2 linked regions of the Homo sapiens genome follow. The protein of the gene in region 2 interacts with the protein of the main gene of each other region in a biochemical or structural test. Each region holds a gene or a part of one and is shown on either strand. Other genes may lie near its edges.

Evidence for each region. The genes of interacting proteins can lie anywhere in the genome.
Region 1: the proteins of ATF7IP2 (region 2) and MBD1 form a complex in vitro, tested with the Homo sapiens proteins (one study listed by BioGRID).

The regions. Positions count from the first base shown.
Region 1 is NC_000018.10:50,271,524-50,278,559, forward strand, and holds part of MBD1 (methyl-CpG-binding domain protein 1), read right to left. Parts: intron 5,682-7,036; coding exon 5,567-5,681; intron 5,476-5,566; coding exon 5,309-5,475; intron 5,222-5,308; coding exon 5,139-5,221; intron 4,896-5,138; coding exon 4,855-4,895; intron 4,459-4,854; coding exon 4,312-4,458; intron 4,206-4,311; coding exon 4,077-4,205; intron 3,922-4,076; coding exon of another isoform or gene 3,847-3,921; intron 3,723-3,846; coding exon 3,606-3,722; intron 3,523-3,605; coding exon 3,454-3,522; intron 2,831-3,453; coding exon 2,663-2,830; intron 2,341-2,662; coding exon 2,041-2,340; intron 1,949-2,040; coding exon 1,811-1,948; intron 1,433-1,810; coding exon 1,301-1,432; intron 1,216-1,300; coding exon 1,154-1,215; intron 18-1,153; coding exon 1-17. UniProt on the Homo sapiens protein: Transcriptional repressor that binds CpG islands in promoters where the DNA is methylated at position 5 of cytosine within CpG dinucleotides. Binding is abolished by the presence of 7-mG that is produced by DNA damage by methylmethanesulfonate (MMS).
Region 2 is NC_000016.10:10,431,025-10,438,060, reverse strand, and holds part of ATF7IP2 (activating transcription factor 7-interacting protein 2), read right to left. Parts: coding exon 6,606-7,036; intron 4,548-6,605; exon of another isoform or gene 4,537-4,547; coding exon 4,412-4,536; intron 1-4,411. UniProt on the Homo sapiens protein: Recruiter that couples transcriptional factors to general transcription apparatus and thereby modulates transcription regulation and chromatin formation. Can both act as an activator or a repressor depending on the context.

The DNA.
Region 1 (7,036 bases), on a different chromosome or scaffold from region 2:
TTTTAAGGTCTTTGGACCTAGGGAAAAGGGAGCAGGTCTGTATGTTGAATGAGGTTTGCTATGTGCGCAATGGAGCATTACAAAACCATTTCCTACTATTCTGTGTCCTCCATCCACTTCCCCTTAATTATCCTTTATCTTTTTTTATATCTTCTAAAAACTACCATTATAGACAGCTTGTACATAGTCAGATTATAAGCTCCCTGAAGGTAGGTATCCTGTGTCTCCTGAAGGGTAAGCTTTGCAGGGCTCATTGTCCTCAATGCTGTGCACCCAACAGGAACTCAATCAATACTTCTGTAATTGGCCAAGTATAGATGAAAGGGTTTCTAGCCTGGTGGGCTGGTTTGTAGGAGCAAAGGAATCCAAGTGCTTAGGCCAATAGTTTACATCGCCAGTGTCTGGGGCTCTATGCAGGGTCTGTCAATATTCTGCAGGAGCCAGCACTCCTCTGTCCTCCCAACCACCCTAGTCCTTACAGGCATCTACCCTTTGTTCTATGCCAGGACTACAGGGACAGTTCTGCAAGGCATCTGAAGTTAATAACCTCAATAGGCTCAGGAAAGGCTCAAGAGATCCAGCCCAAGCCCTTCCACAGAGGCCGCTCCAGGAAGTGCAGGGCAACCAGAGATCACACAACTACGTGTGAACCCAGCTCACAAAGCCAGCTCGGAACCCAGATCTCCTGCCCATACCACTGCCCAGGCAAGCCCAGCACCATTTCTCTGGTACACATTGCTCAATGTCAGGCAACAGCCCACCCAGAGGTCTCCTGGAGACTCTAAAGGCCTTCAAGACCCAAATGATTATTCTCTGAATAAGAATTTATATATTAAAGCTGACCCCTATAGAAATTCCTTAGGAAAATAGGGACCAGACTCCCTATCTTTTTCTTTCAAATCTCATGATAGAGTACCAAGTCTTTCCCCTACCCCCAAAGGAGAGTCCTAACCTGGAATGCTATTGGGCTGGATCTCAGGAGAAATCTCTAGGGTCCTACACACACGCCCCTCATTAATTGTGACCAGCATAGTGGGTATGGGCCTTTACCTCCCACCACACCATGCCAAACTGCCGGCTATACTTTCAAAACTCAGGGCCCACATCTGGCCAACACCCACTCCTTCCCCACCCCTCACTGTGTGGGGCACACCTTGGCAACCAGACTGCTGTATCTCGGAAGCGGGTTCCACCCAGGCTGAAAATCTCCGTGATCTAGAGAAGAATTAACACCATAGGTCAATGTGGTTGTTGGGGCTACAGCAGGGTCAGGGCAGGGTGGGGCATCCCCAGCACTGACCACGGGTGTGCCAGCCCCTCCTGCCTCTTCCTCTGGGGCCAATTTGGAGGCAGAATCATCCTTGTTCTCCTCCTTGTCCTCCTCTGGGTCAGGTGGCTCTTGCTTCACAGAAGGCAGGCCTGGGTCTACTGCCTGGGAGAAGTAGGAAACAGGCAACCATTAGAAGGGCAGAGTTCACCTGAGGAAAGTCTCTATCAGCCAACCCCTCACTGTGCTGACAAATCCTACTTCCATCACATTTCAACACAGAAAGTCCATCTCTCTGCCTACAAAGCTTTCCCATTCCCATTCCTCACTGACCTCCGTTTTTCTGTTAGCTGGATAGCAAAGCGGGCAAAGCTAGTTGCCTGTGGGAGGTAGGGTGTCTGTTAGACAGGCGGGGTAATTCTGCAGAAACGTCGCAATCAGCACATCTATTGCTCTGCTCAAGAGAACCATCATGGCTCATCATCACTCTGCTTACAGACCACTCCGCTACGGCACCAACAGAACATCCATCACTGCCCCCACCTTGCTAGGGCAGCCAGGCACCAATACGGGAGAAGTCAGGACAGCTGTGCCTGGTGTCCACTCGTCCTGGGTATCCGCCTTCTCTTGCTTCACCTGGGGTAAGGCCACAACCCAACTCAGGCCAGAGCACTGGGCCTCCTGCGTGAGGGAGGATTGCAGCAGACTTGGTCTCAGCTCCCTGGCATGCAGCTGGGTGAGGCTGGGAAGGCAGGACAGGGTGGGGCCCTCACCTGCAACAGGGCTTCTGTGGAAGCTGCAACAGGGCCCGGCACCTGCACAGGACTGCTTGCGCCTTCCCGTAAAAACACAAGGTCAGTGCCAGGCGGGGGCAGCACAAAGCCACCACCTGCTTCCTGCTTCGTTGGAGCCTGGGTATGGTCTGGTTGGGCTGTGCGTGTAGCCAAGGTGGGCTTCAAGGTAGGGCCAAGATGGTGCCGTCGGGCAGAGCTGGGCCTCTTTCGACGACGGTAAGGTGGGGGCGATCCTGCCCCATCCTCAGACTCTGACCAGACACTGGGCAGCAGCCGCTTCTATGGGGAAAGATAGGGTGCTATGGCTACCTGGTGTCCTGACCAATCACATCCACCCTGCCCGGCTCCACATGCCTGCTAATCTCCCATCAGTCCCAGCACGGAATCTGCTTACATATGAGCCCTTCATCACTGAGCCTGCTAGTCTCCTATTAGCAACACCAATGCCACCTAGACTCATTAAGCCAAGAACAATGTCTGTTAATCCTCAACCAAAGCTACTGCCCCACCCACCCACCTACCAAGCCTGCCCACCACTTCCAGGCACTGGGGCGCCTGGCCCAACCTATCCCGTCCACCTGACCCTTCCTGCCCCACCCACCATGGCAAACTGCAGGCATTGGCGCCAACGACACTTCTGGCGCTTCTGGTTGCTGCCCCCGAATTTGGGCTTGTCGCAGCAGAAGTCGCAGCGGCCACAGTCCATCCGCCGTAGGCAGGCTGCACAGGCCCCGCACTTGCGGTTCTGCCGGCGGTTCGTGTAGGGCTGCTGGGGTGGGGGGAATGGGTGGTGCTGTCAACTAGGACTAGGAGAGGCCATCCTCAACGCCTATTCCAGTGCTGGTCCTGGTGCTCCTCTAGCCCCATAAGACGGAGCTACTTGCATACTAGTCTCAGCCTCCTGACTCCCCACTAGTCACTCCTCAGCATTCGCTAGTTCAACATTGGCCACTATCACTGTGCCAGCTGGCCCTCGATACCATTAGGACTGTGGCTGCTCCACTACAGTATCCACTGCTGTATTTCCTAGGCCACCACTAGCTACCAAGAAAATGTCTCTGACCCCCATTTCCAGCAACATTTTGATAACTCTCTATTAGCTCCCATCACTGTGCCTACTCTGTCGCTCATCCTAGGTGAACCCCAGTCACTATGCTAGCTGCTCCTCTGTCAATCCCCACATCAGCTACCAGAGTGTTGGTATATGTGACATGAAGCACTCTCATGCACCTGCTGACCCCGTATTAGTCCTCCATTATCTACTCATCCCATCCTAGGACCCATTATTGTGCCTTGCTGTTCCCCAATAGGCTCATTCCAGCATCTGCTTCTTTGAAGTTAACCAAGCGTCCTGAGATTCTAGGCTTATCCAGGTAGGGTGGGGCCACTCACTAGCTCGTCCTCGTCTACACAGTAATAGATGAACTCGGCAGGTGGCGAGGGGGCCAGGGCTCTGGGGTGCTGTAGAGGCAAATGGGGTGGGGTCAGGGCAGGTACTGGGTAAGGTCAGGGTTGTGCCTTCCCTCCACCCACTGGGGCCTCACCGGCTCTGTGGGCTCTGGGGACTGTGATGGGGGTGGTGGAGGCAGTGGCTGGGCTCCGGGGCGCCGCCTGGCAGCCATCTTGGAGTCACAGCCTCCCTTGCGGCGGGCATGTTTACCCTGGGAAAGATCAGAAAGGGTGGTTTCAGCTTGGTGGCACCAGGCAGACACAGAAACTCCCCACACCCTAAGTGCAGAAAGCATGCATGGGACAGGCAGACAGAGGGTGGCGTGAGGCACTCACAGTTGGGGGAGCCACAGCCAGGGGAGTGCGTCGCTGACATCTCTGATGACGGCGACGCAGGCGGTGAGCAAGGTGCTGGCAGACAGAGGCAGGTAGGCGGGGCCAGAAAGGCGAGCATAGGGTTAGGCAGAAAAGAAAGACATGAGGTAGGCAAGGCCAGGTTGAAAGGAAGCAGAGGCAGCGACGATTTTAACAGCAGAATGAGCTCTGCTCCCTCCAGCCCAACTCACCCGTAGGCAACGTCGCTGGACACATTTCCACTGGCGCCTGAGACCAGGGCGGGGAGGGCGAAGGCAGATGGGGCAATGGCCACAATCCTCTTGGGTCTGACAGCCCCGGCATACTCCACACCCTCGGCTCTGTTGGCGGGGGGCAGGTGGGAGCAGAGGCATGAAGCATGGGGCCAAGCCCATGGGGGCCAGGGGCCGAGGTGAGCCTTGGGCTCTTTCCACTTGCCCAACTCACCCTTTCCACAATCCGGAGGCAGCGTCTCCGTTCACACTTGCAGAACAGCCCCGATGCCACATCATGGGGCAGCTGCAGGAGGCAGGTGGAGCAGGCCCCACAGTCTTCTGTTACCTGGCAGGCTGCACACTCCCCACAGCCCACACGCTGCCAGGAATGGTAGGGACGAGATCACGGGCCTGCTCCAGAAGCACTGGTCCTCCCATGTCTACTGACCCTACATCAGCTGGCATCACCATGAATTTTAGTCCCCCATTAGCCTCATCACCGTATCTGAGAAGGTCTGGTTAGTCACCATCACTGAGGCCATTAGTATGTCTACTGGTCCCCTGTTCACTTCATCACTGTGTCTACTGATGCACTAATGGTAATGGGGATTAATTACCCCATTAATTCCCATTATTGTGTCTGCTGACCTATGGAGAGCACCCTATAAAATGACTCTTCATCCTGTGGACCCATCATCATCCCTTCAGACTCTACCAGCTCCATCACATCCTGCTCCCACTGCAGAGTTGTGAAGAGGAAGCAGGTTGTGCTTACCTTAAACATTCTCTGTTCCCGGTTGAAGGCAATTCTCTGTGCTGTGGGGAGGAAGAGGGAAGAAGAAAAGTGGAAAGGAAGCAACAGACATCTGACTTCACTCACTGCCTGTGCCCTGACTTCCACTATTCAACCTCTACCTATGCCTGCTATCTCCAATATCCAACCTCCAACCATGCCAGTAGCCTCTGTCCTGACATCCACATTCAAACCCCAGCCTAGCATGACACTGGACCTGCTCCAGCTCCTATCTCCCGATGCCCCATCCTCTGGAGGCCACTCACCTCGACAGTCTTTGCACAACGTTTTGAGCCGCTGCCTTTGGGTGCCATCCCCTGAGAAGCTGATTCCACAGTTCTCACAGCACCTGGGATGGGAAAGGCAGGTGTGGGGCTCCAAGAGCACCCCCAATCACAACCCTCACCCATCTGGCTCACCTTAGACCAACACTCACCCAGGAGCAGGGAATGAAGCTGGGGCTGTGTCAGTGTCAGCCTTGGTCTCATCCCTCGGGGCCTCCTTCCTGACCTCACCACTCTGGGGTCCAACCTGACGTTTCCGAGTCTTGGCTGGCCTTGAAGGCTTCTTTCGCTTCTTGCTGGCAACCGCCACGGGATGGGCCTGGAAAGTAAGGGAAGGAGGAATATGGGTCAGTGGTTGGGTGTTGGGTGGCACATCCACCCCTACCTAGGTATCTCATGTTGTGAAGTACCTTGGGGGCTGGATAGCACAAGATGCCTTGTTTGAAGTCGAAGAGGGTGAGATCACACGCAGGGCCCAGGTATCGAGTCAGCTCAACTTTGCTTCGGATCCTGTCTCCTGTGGGGCTAGGGATGGGCCATGATGGGTTAGCACCCAGGTGGAGCCAATGCCATTTCACTCATACAACCTTTTGACAGGGCTGGCAGGATATAGGAGGCAGCCTGGAATTGGCTTGTGAGCCCTGCCCAGCCCCCACCTCAACTAACCTTGAAAACATAAAAAAATTAATATAAATACCAACACATATAGAAACATTAGAAACAATATAAATGTAAACAGATGAACATATTTACAACATATAATACTAGTAATACTGGAACTATTTCATGTAAGTAAAAATAAACACAAATAGGAACACAAATATATTATATTTGTGTTATATATATATAACACAAATATAACATATAAATGTTAGCATTATGTACCAAGTATATATCAAGTAAAGAAAACACAAATATGTTTTAAAAACATATAAACAAATGCAACTACATACAAATTAAAGTATAAGTAATTGATTTTGGGACCCCCATGGGTTTCTTGCATTTTTGTATGCCCTGCAAGAGAGACAACGATTGTCCTTTTTGATAAACTATCTTTCCAAGGATGTTTGTAAAGCAAACAACCTTGGAAGATAAGAGATAGGGTCTCCTTCCATAGGAGGAAGGGAAAGTATACTTTTTCCAAAGGGAAAGCATACTTACTGTCTTAATATTATTTAAAAAAAACCTGATTCTCTAAGCTCACGGTTCTTTTCCTATAATAATACAACCCTCTTCACGTCATGCTGTAGGAATTGGGATTCAGAAACTGGCACAAAAATAGTAATACAGTAATTCCCCCTCTCGTGCAGGGGATACATCCCAAGTTCCCCAGTGGATGCCTGAAACCGTGGATAGTACCAAACCCTAATGTAATATGTACTGTGTTTTTTCTATCTGATAACTGAGATGGTTACTGTGTGACTAACAGGCAGGTTGTGTCTAGAACATGGATATGGATACGGATATGGACAAAGAGATGATTCACCTCTTGAGCAGGACTGAGCGGGATGGTGTGAGATTTCATCACGCTACTCAAAACGGCACACAATTCAAAACTAATGAATTGTTTATTTCTAAAATTTTCCATTTAATATTTTTGGATGGTGGTTGACTGTAGGTAACTAAAGCTGTGGAAAATGAAATTGCAGATAAGGGGGAGACTACTGTATTCTGGATCCTGCAACTGTTGTAATAAACTGTCTTTGATCTGTAACCCAGGAGTCTTACCCCTCCTACCAGCATCTACAAAATTCTGACAAATTCACTATTATCTTGTCCTAAGAATGAAATCTCAGGTTCTTTATAGTTCTTGACAACTGCACTTTTAAGTTTTGAAAGTTTTATACAAGTACATAAATATGTGAATAAATTATAACTAA
Region 2 (7,036 bases):
AATTTAAAAGCAATTTTACTTTCTACTTAAAAAGCCTTGCTCTTTTCCAGATTTACTGTAACCAATTAAATATAGTTTATTTATATTTGTATGTTTATATAACTATACCAGTAAGTTTTTCAAAACTTGAATATTAAACTCAGAACACATCCAATATTTAAGTATACTGGACATGTTAGAAATTAAATTTATTCTCATAATGCTAACTTTAGTTTCCTATAGTTCCACTTGAATTCCATACTATACATTATAGAAACAATTAAAAGACTATATGCCATTTATATTTTTTAATATCCATAACTCCTAGTTAGTATTCCATATAAAGGAACTCTACTTATCTGAAAACCAGCACCTGATGAAAATGGTTGGTTGGTCTGTAGTAGATATAGAACAAATTACACAAGTGTGAGACTTGACATTACCACTAATAAGCTACTTGACCCTTTAGTCAGTCACATTATTTTTGAGCTTCATTTTCCTTGTTGACAAATGAGTAGATAATATAATAAATGTTGAACAAGTGATACTCAAAGGATTTTTATAGGAACATAAGGTAATACGCAAAAGAGCACCATAAAATAAAAAACACTGAATTGATATGAAAGAAGTAAATATGTAAGATAATCACCATTACTTCCATAATTGTTTTAGGGGGTGGCTTTCTTATTGTTAAAATTGAAATAATATCAATCAGTTGGTTAGCTCAGCTAGTTAGAGCACGGTGCTAAAACTGAAAGAAGCCAGCCGGGTGCAGTGGCTCACGCCTGTAATCCCAACACTCTGGGAGGCCGAGGTGGGCAGATCACGAGGTCAGGAGTTGAAGACCAGCCTGACCAACATGGTGAAACCCCGACTCTACTAAAAATACAAAAATTAGCCAGGCATGGTGGCAGGCAACATAGTCTCAGCTACTCTGGAGGCTGAGACAGGAGAACTGCTTGAATCCAGGAGGTGGAGGTTGCAGTGAGCCGAGATCACACCACTGTACTCCAGGCCTGGGTGATTGAGCGAGACTCCGTCTCAAAAAAAAAAAAAAAATGGGAAAAATAGCCAAGGACAATTATGTAGTTACCAATGTTATCTGCCATAATGCATGCCATTCTAACAAATCGTAGTAGCTGTAATATGAAAAATTAATGAACTTATCTTTTTTTTTTGAAAACAGACTGGCCCATTTTCAGGGAGAATAATTAATTTCAATGCCCACTGATATGAGCAGCTCTGCTGAGCCATACATTCAGAAACATTCACTGTAGTTTTTCACTCAGTGTGTATCCTCCTGGTAAGCAATTTTCACCACAGTGTAAGTAGTCTTTGTTAATATGACCTGTTATGATACATTTAAGGTATTTATAATATTTATATATTTTTTCCTCCAGTATCTTGCTTCATGATGCTCAAAATAGAACACATAGTTCCTACGTTAAACTCTTATATTGATATCACCTGGATGATTATATTCTTTAATTTTGATCATTCCCAAGGCTCTTCCTTCCTGTTTCCAAGTGTTCTCACTCTTCAACATTGTCTACTTGATCTCTTCTCTAATGCTTCACTAACATTTCTTCCATGGTTTCTCTACATTAGACATGATTGTCATTTTTACTTTCATAACTTTTAAACATGTGAGCAAATGAATGTGCTCAAAATGTATTATTTAAAAAAAAAAGGCTCAGTAACACATACTATTATATTTTTTGGGACAGAGTCTCGCTCTGTTGCTCAGGCTGCAGTGCAGCAGCGTGATCCCGGCTCACTGCAATCTTCACCCACCATGTTTAAGTGATTTTCCTGCCTCAGCCTTCCTAGTAGCTGAGCCTACAGGCATGCTCCACCATGTCCAGCTAATTTTTATATTTTTAGCCGAGACAGGGTTTCACCATTGTTGGCCAGGCTGGTCTTGAACTCCTGACCTCAAGTGATCCACCCAACTTGGCCTCCCAAAGTGCTAGGATTATAAGCGTGAGCCACCACGCCCGGCCAATACTATTATTTTTACCGATGACCATTACCTATTACTCGTGTGGTTTCTATGGATCATCACATGTTTGTTAGTTCACTGGCTGGGTTCAATATGTGAAGCTCATACCCACATGAATCTTGGAGAAACAAATCTAAATCTTTTGAACGTGGAAACACTGTTTTGTACAGTGTTTCTCTAACAGTGTTCCTCATCCTTGGTGAGGAACAATCACATGGGATGGTTGTTAAAAATCGAATTCCTAGGCCACATCCTGGATCCACCAAACACAATCTTTTGGAAAGGAGCCTGGAAAGTTGTATACTAAACAGTTACTACAAATGATTTTTATCAGGTACGTTTGAGAAAGCAGTAGCCTACAACAACAGTCTTCAACTATTAGCTCAAGAAACCACAATTTAAACAAGTACTCCTGGTGGTTCACATTGGGACAGGTCCTTAAATTTGATCATTTTTGACTAAGTACCCACCATGGGGCAACTCCTCTTGGTTAGACTATACACTTGTTCTAATTTAATGGTAATGTTCCTTATACAAAAGGAAGACACAATAACCTCCATCAAATACCTCATAAATGTTTTTACCAATGGTAATGTGCCCATCAACAGGGAATCAGATTGAAGTCCTGGCTTCAAAGTGGAGATGGCAGCCAAACTGGCCTAAAGTTTGGAGAAAGTACAAACTTATCTCCAATCTGTGCCAACTTTCTGAGATAATGGGTAGAGTGAATAACTTAAGACTGTAAAGGAAAAACCCTTCCTCTTCAGTAATTTAACTGGAATTAACCCGGCCATGCTCCTTATGAAACCTCAAAAGGCTAAGAAATGATCACTGCAGGACTCCTTCAGTAGGGGAGAACAATGTCAGAATGACGGGGAGGGCTATCTCATTGAGATTCAAACAAGGTAAACATCTAGATATGGTTGAGAGAGACAACTGTTTGGACAGCAATAAGAAGTGAGGAAAAGCTAGCTATTTAGAGATGGTTATGTACACATCAGAAGTTACTTCTGGCTGGGCGCGGTGGCTCACACCTGTAATCCCAGCACTTTGGGAGGCCGAGGCGGGCGGATCACTGAAACTGCTGTTCAAGACCAGCCTGGCCAACATGGTAAAATCTGTCTCTACTAAAAATACACACAAAAAGTTAGCTGGGTGTGCTAGTGCACACCTGTAGTCCCAACTACTCAGGAGGTGGAGGTAGCACTGAGCCGAGACTGTGCCACTGCACTCCAGTCTGGGTGACAAAGTGAGACTCTGCCTCAAACAAACAAACAAACAAAAACTTACTTCTCACTTCAGCTACTAATTACTGGAAACAAGACACAGCTGGAATCCCCAACCTTCTTCTTGAATAACATGGTCCTTAGGGCTAGGATCCATGCTTACCATACTTCTACCCTTTCCCTGCCAACAACAGAACACTTACATATTTTTTACTGTCTCCTTTGGTCTTCTTCGAAGAAAACCAAAAGGGAGACACAGAAAAACTGTTGACTCGCCCTTTAAGCTGGTTCTGCGTAACTCTTTCCCTTTATTTTCCCTTATTATTAGGTGAAGAATACACATTCATAGTATATGTAACTATGTAATTGTAATGGTCTGTTTTAAAAAATGGTAGTGTTTCTGTTTCTGAAACAGTTTGCAGGGTAGTTTAGACGGGGAAATTTCGGTCCATTACAGCTGGAAGACATTAGTCTACTAGGTAATGATTTGTAGTGGTGGCATTCTAGTGGTAGTGAAATAGGAAAACATGGTCATCAAAACCCGTCCTCAGTATAACCATTCTACTAGAACTGAAACACGCTACATACACTTCAGCTAACAATTGATCAAACGCATACTGAGACTGTAGTACAATGAGATAAAATGAGGCCACAATGAAAGCAAGAAGTGTATTTAATGATGCTATACAGCAAAATGTCAGATAATGTACCATATCCGTTTAAGTTTGGAAAATAGGGCAAGTAAACCTGAATGCACAGGGACTTTGCAATGGACTTCCAGGTTGTTTGAGTCTTCTGGGTTGTGGTGAGATCTACAAATGGATAGAGCTGCAGATCTAAGAACCCCATGACTAGTACAAAAGAGACTGGATTCTTTAATAAAGCTGAAGGTCATGCAGTGTCTGACTTACAGACAAATATGAGTGTAATACTGACTGAAAGCCCATTCTCTTTTTGCAACAGGACTCTACCTACACATGATCCCTAGGTTATTCTGCATGAGACCATTTTCAAGAAACCAGAGCTGTTTTGGTAATGTAAGTAGTTATCTCTCCCCAGTCTGTCTGATAATTTGGCTTTCACACACCAGCTCTGCAGCAAGTGAAAGTCGTCTGTATTATGCCACTGTGGGGACCAGATAATTAACTTTTACCATGTTTTACTAATCAAAAGTAAAAGTTCCATTTAAGCCCCAATATTTTACCTGTTCCAGGAATGCTGTTTGCCTTTCCAAACTTACACAAATATTTTCATTAATTTGCTCTGAAGTTTTCATGCGTTTAACATTTTCCTCGTTTTCTGAAAACATCCTCTTCTTTTGATAATGGCCTTGAGGAGATCAAAAGATTAGAAAGAAAGATATTTTAAAGAAAAAAACAGGTTCAGTGTGGTGGCTCATGTCTGTAATCCCAGCACTCTGGGAGGCTAAGGAGGGAGGGTGGCTTAAGGCCAGGAGTTCAAGACCAGCCTGGGCAACATAGTGAAAATTCATCTCCACAAAAAATTTAAAATTAGCTGGGTATGGTGGGGCATGCCCGTAGTCTCAGCTACTCAGGAGGTTGAGGTGAGAGGATTGCTTGAGGCTGGGAGGTTGAGGTGGCAGTGAGCACCTTGACTACTGCACTCTAGCCTGGGCAACACAGTGAGACCCTGTTTCAAGGAGGAAAAAAGAGAAGGAAATAGGAATTCTCTAATTTAGAGACCCTCTGAGCAAATGGAAAAACTAAAATGTGACACTGCAGCATTTTTTAGAACATTCAATTGCATAAATACGTACCCACAAACTAACCTTGAAAAAAAATGAGTTATCTTAGGTAGGGTTCTGGTCTCAGATACTCTGTCCCTTTAATCTTACTTAATAACTCAATACACATATACGAACAAAAACTTAACAAATTATGGCATTTAATTCTCTATTTATAGTGACTTAAGTGGTTCTACGTTATTTTATATAAAGGTACTCTTTTTTCATTTTGAGAAGGAGTCTCACTCTTGTCGCCCAGGCAAGAGTGAAGTGGCACGATCTTGGCTCAGTGCAACTTCCGCCCCCCAGGTTCAAGCAATTCTCCTGTCTCAGTCTCCCAAGTAGCTGCGATAATAATAATAGGTGCCCACCACCACGCCTGGCTAATTTTTTTTGTATTTTTAGTAGAGACGGGGTTTCGCCATGTTGGCCAGGCTGGTCTTGAACTCCTGACCTCAGGTGATCCACCTGCCTCAACCTTCCAAAGTGCTGGGATTGTATTCGTTAGGCACAGCGCCCGGCTTCTTTTTTTTTCTTTAAGAGACAGGGTCTTGGATCTGTTGCCCAGGCTAGCCTGGATGGCTCAAGCGATCCTCCTGCCTCGGCCTCCCAAAGTGCTGTTAATTACAGGCATGAGCCACCACACCCAGCCTATTATACATATTTGAAATAGATGATACTGTTATTATTTTTAAGGAATTTTAAATTCATCTTGTTAAATGACCATTCTGTAGTCTAGACAAGAACACAAAATTTATAGCATTAAATCAGTTTTTTTCTATTTCATTAACAAAATACCCTACTTCAAATGAAATTCACTTTTGCTATTTTAATGATGTTATAACCCAAGGACTTCATTTATTATTTGGGGTGCTTCTCTTTCTCTACACACACATATACACATGTGTGAATATATTATCTATCATACTTAGCATGTGATTTACAGGTCAATTCTATAGAAAGAAATAGGGTTGGCTGGGCACAGTGGCTCACGCCTGTAATCCCAGCACTTTGGGAGGCCAAGGCGGGTGGATCACGAGGTCAGGAGTTCGAGACCAGCATGACCAACATGGTGAAACCCTGTTTCTACTAAAAATACAAAAAAAAAAAAAAAAAAAATTAGCCGGGCGTAGTGGTGCCCATCTGTAATCCCACCTACTCAGGAGGCTGAGGCAGGCAAATCACTCGAACCCAGGAGGTGGGGGTTGCAGTGAGCCAAGATCGCGCCACTGCACTCCAGCCTGAGCGACAGAGCGAGACTCCGTCTCAAAAAAAAAAAAAAAAAAAAAGAAATAGGGTTACCAACAATTTTTAAAACTCACTCTTTCAACTAGCCTCCTTCTTAATCTAATAAAACTTCAAAATAAGAAGAGATGTATATGAAATGAACCAAATAATTGCTATAAACCACCTTTTGATATTTTGTACTTAAGGAAAAGTGATTGATTCCTTCTTTGCAATAATTACCCTTTTAATATGGTGGATACCTGTCCCCCACCTCACTAAGAATGGTTCAGAAACAAGATACTGTGAAATAATTGTCATCATTTACCTTTTTTCTGTCTATACTGGTTTGTATATTTGAGACTTTAAAATACCCTAAAGAAAAGTGACTATTTTAATTTTTCTAAAAGGTGCATAAGTATATACTTACTGTTGTTATTAGTGTCAAGTGATGACTGCCATGTTGAGTCTGCACTTTCACAATTTGAAATACTGGTTCTACTACACTCATCAGTTTTCAAAATGTCATCAGCACAGTTGTTAGAAGTGACTGAATTCACCAAATTAGGTGTTTTCTCAACAGGCACAAAACCTGAGTCTTCTGAACATAAAATGTTGTCACTTTGCCTTTTATCATGTGATTCTGAATTGGAGTTTGTTTCTAAATGGAAAACCATCTGGTCAGTTTTCTTGTCACCCACGGTACTGGTTACTGTAGACTCTGGCATCTGAACAACACCACTCAATACACTGGGTGGACAGCAACTGGACTTTAGACTACAAGCCCCCTCATGCTCAAAAAGGGATCTTGTTACATTTGTCTGATGCTCAGAATCGTTTTCAGAAGTGTTCAGTGAATCT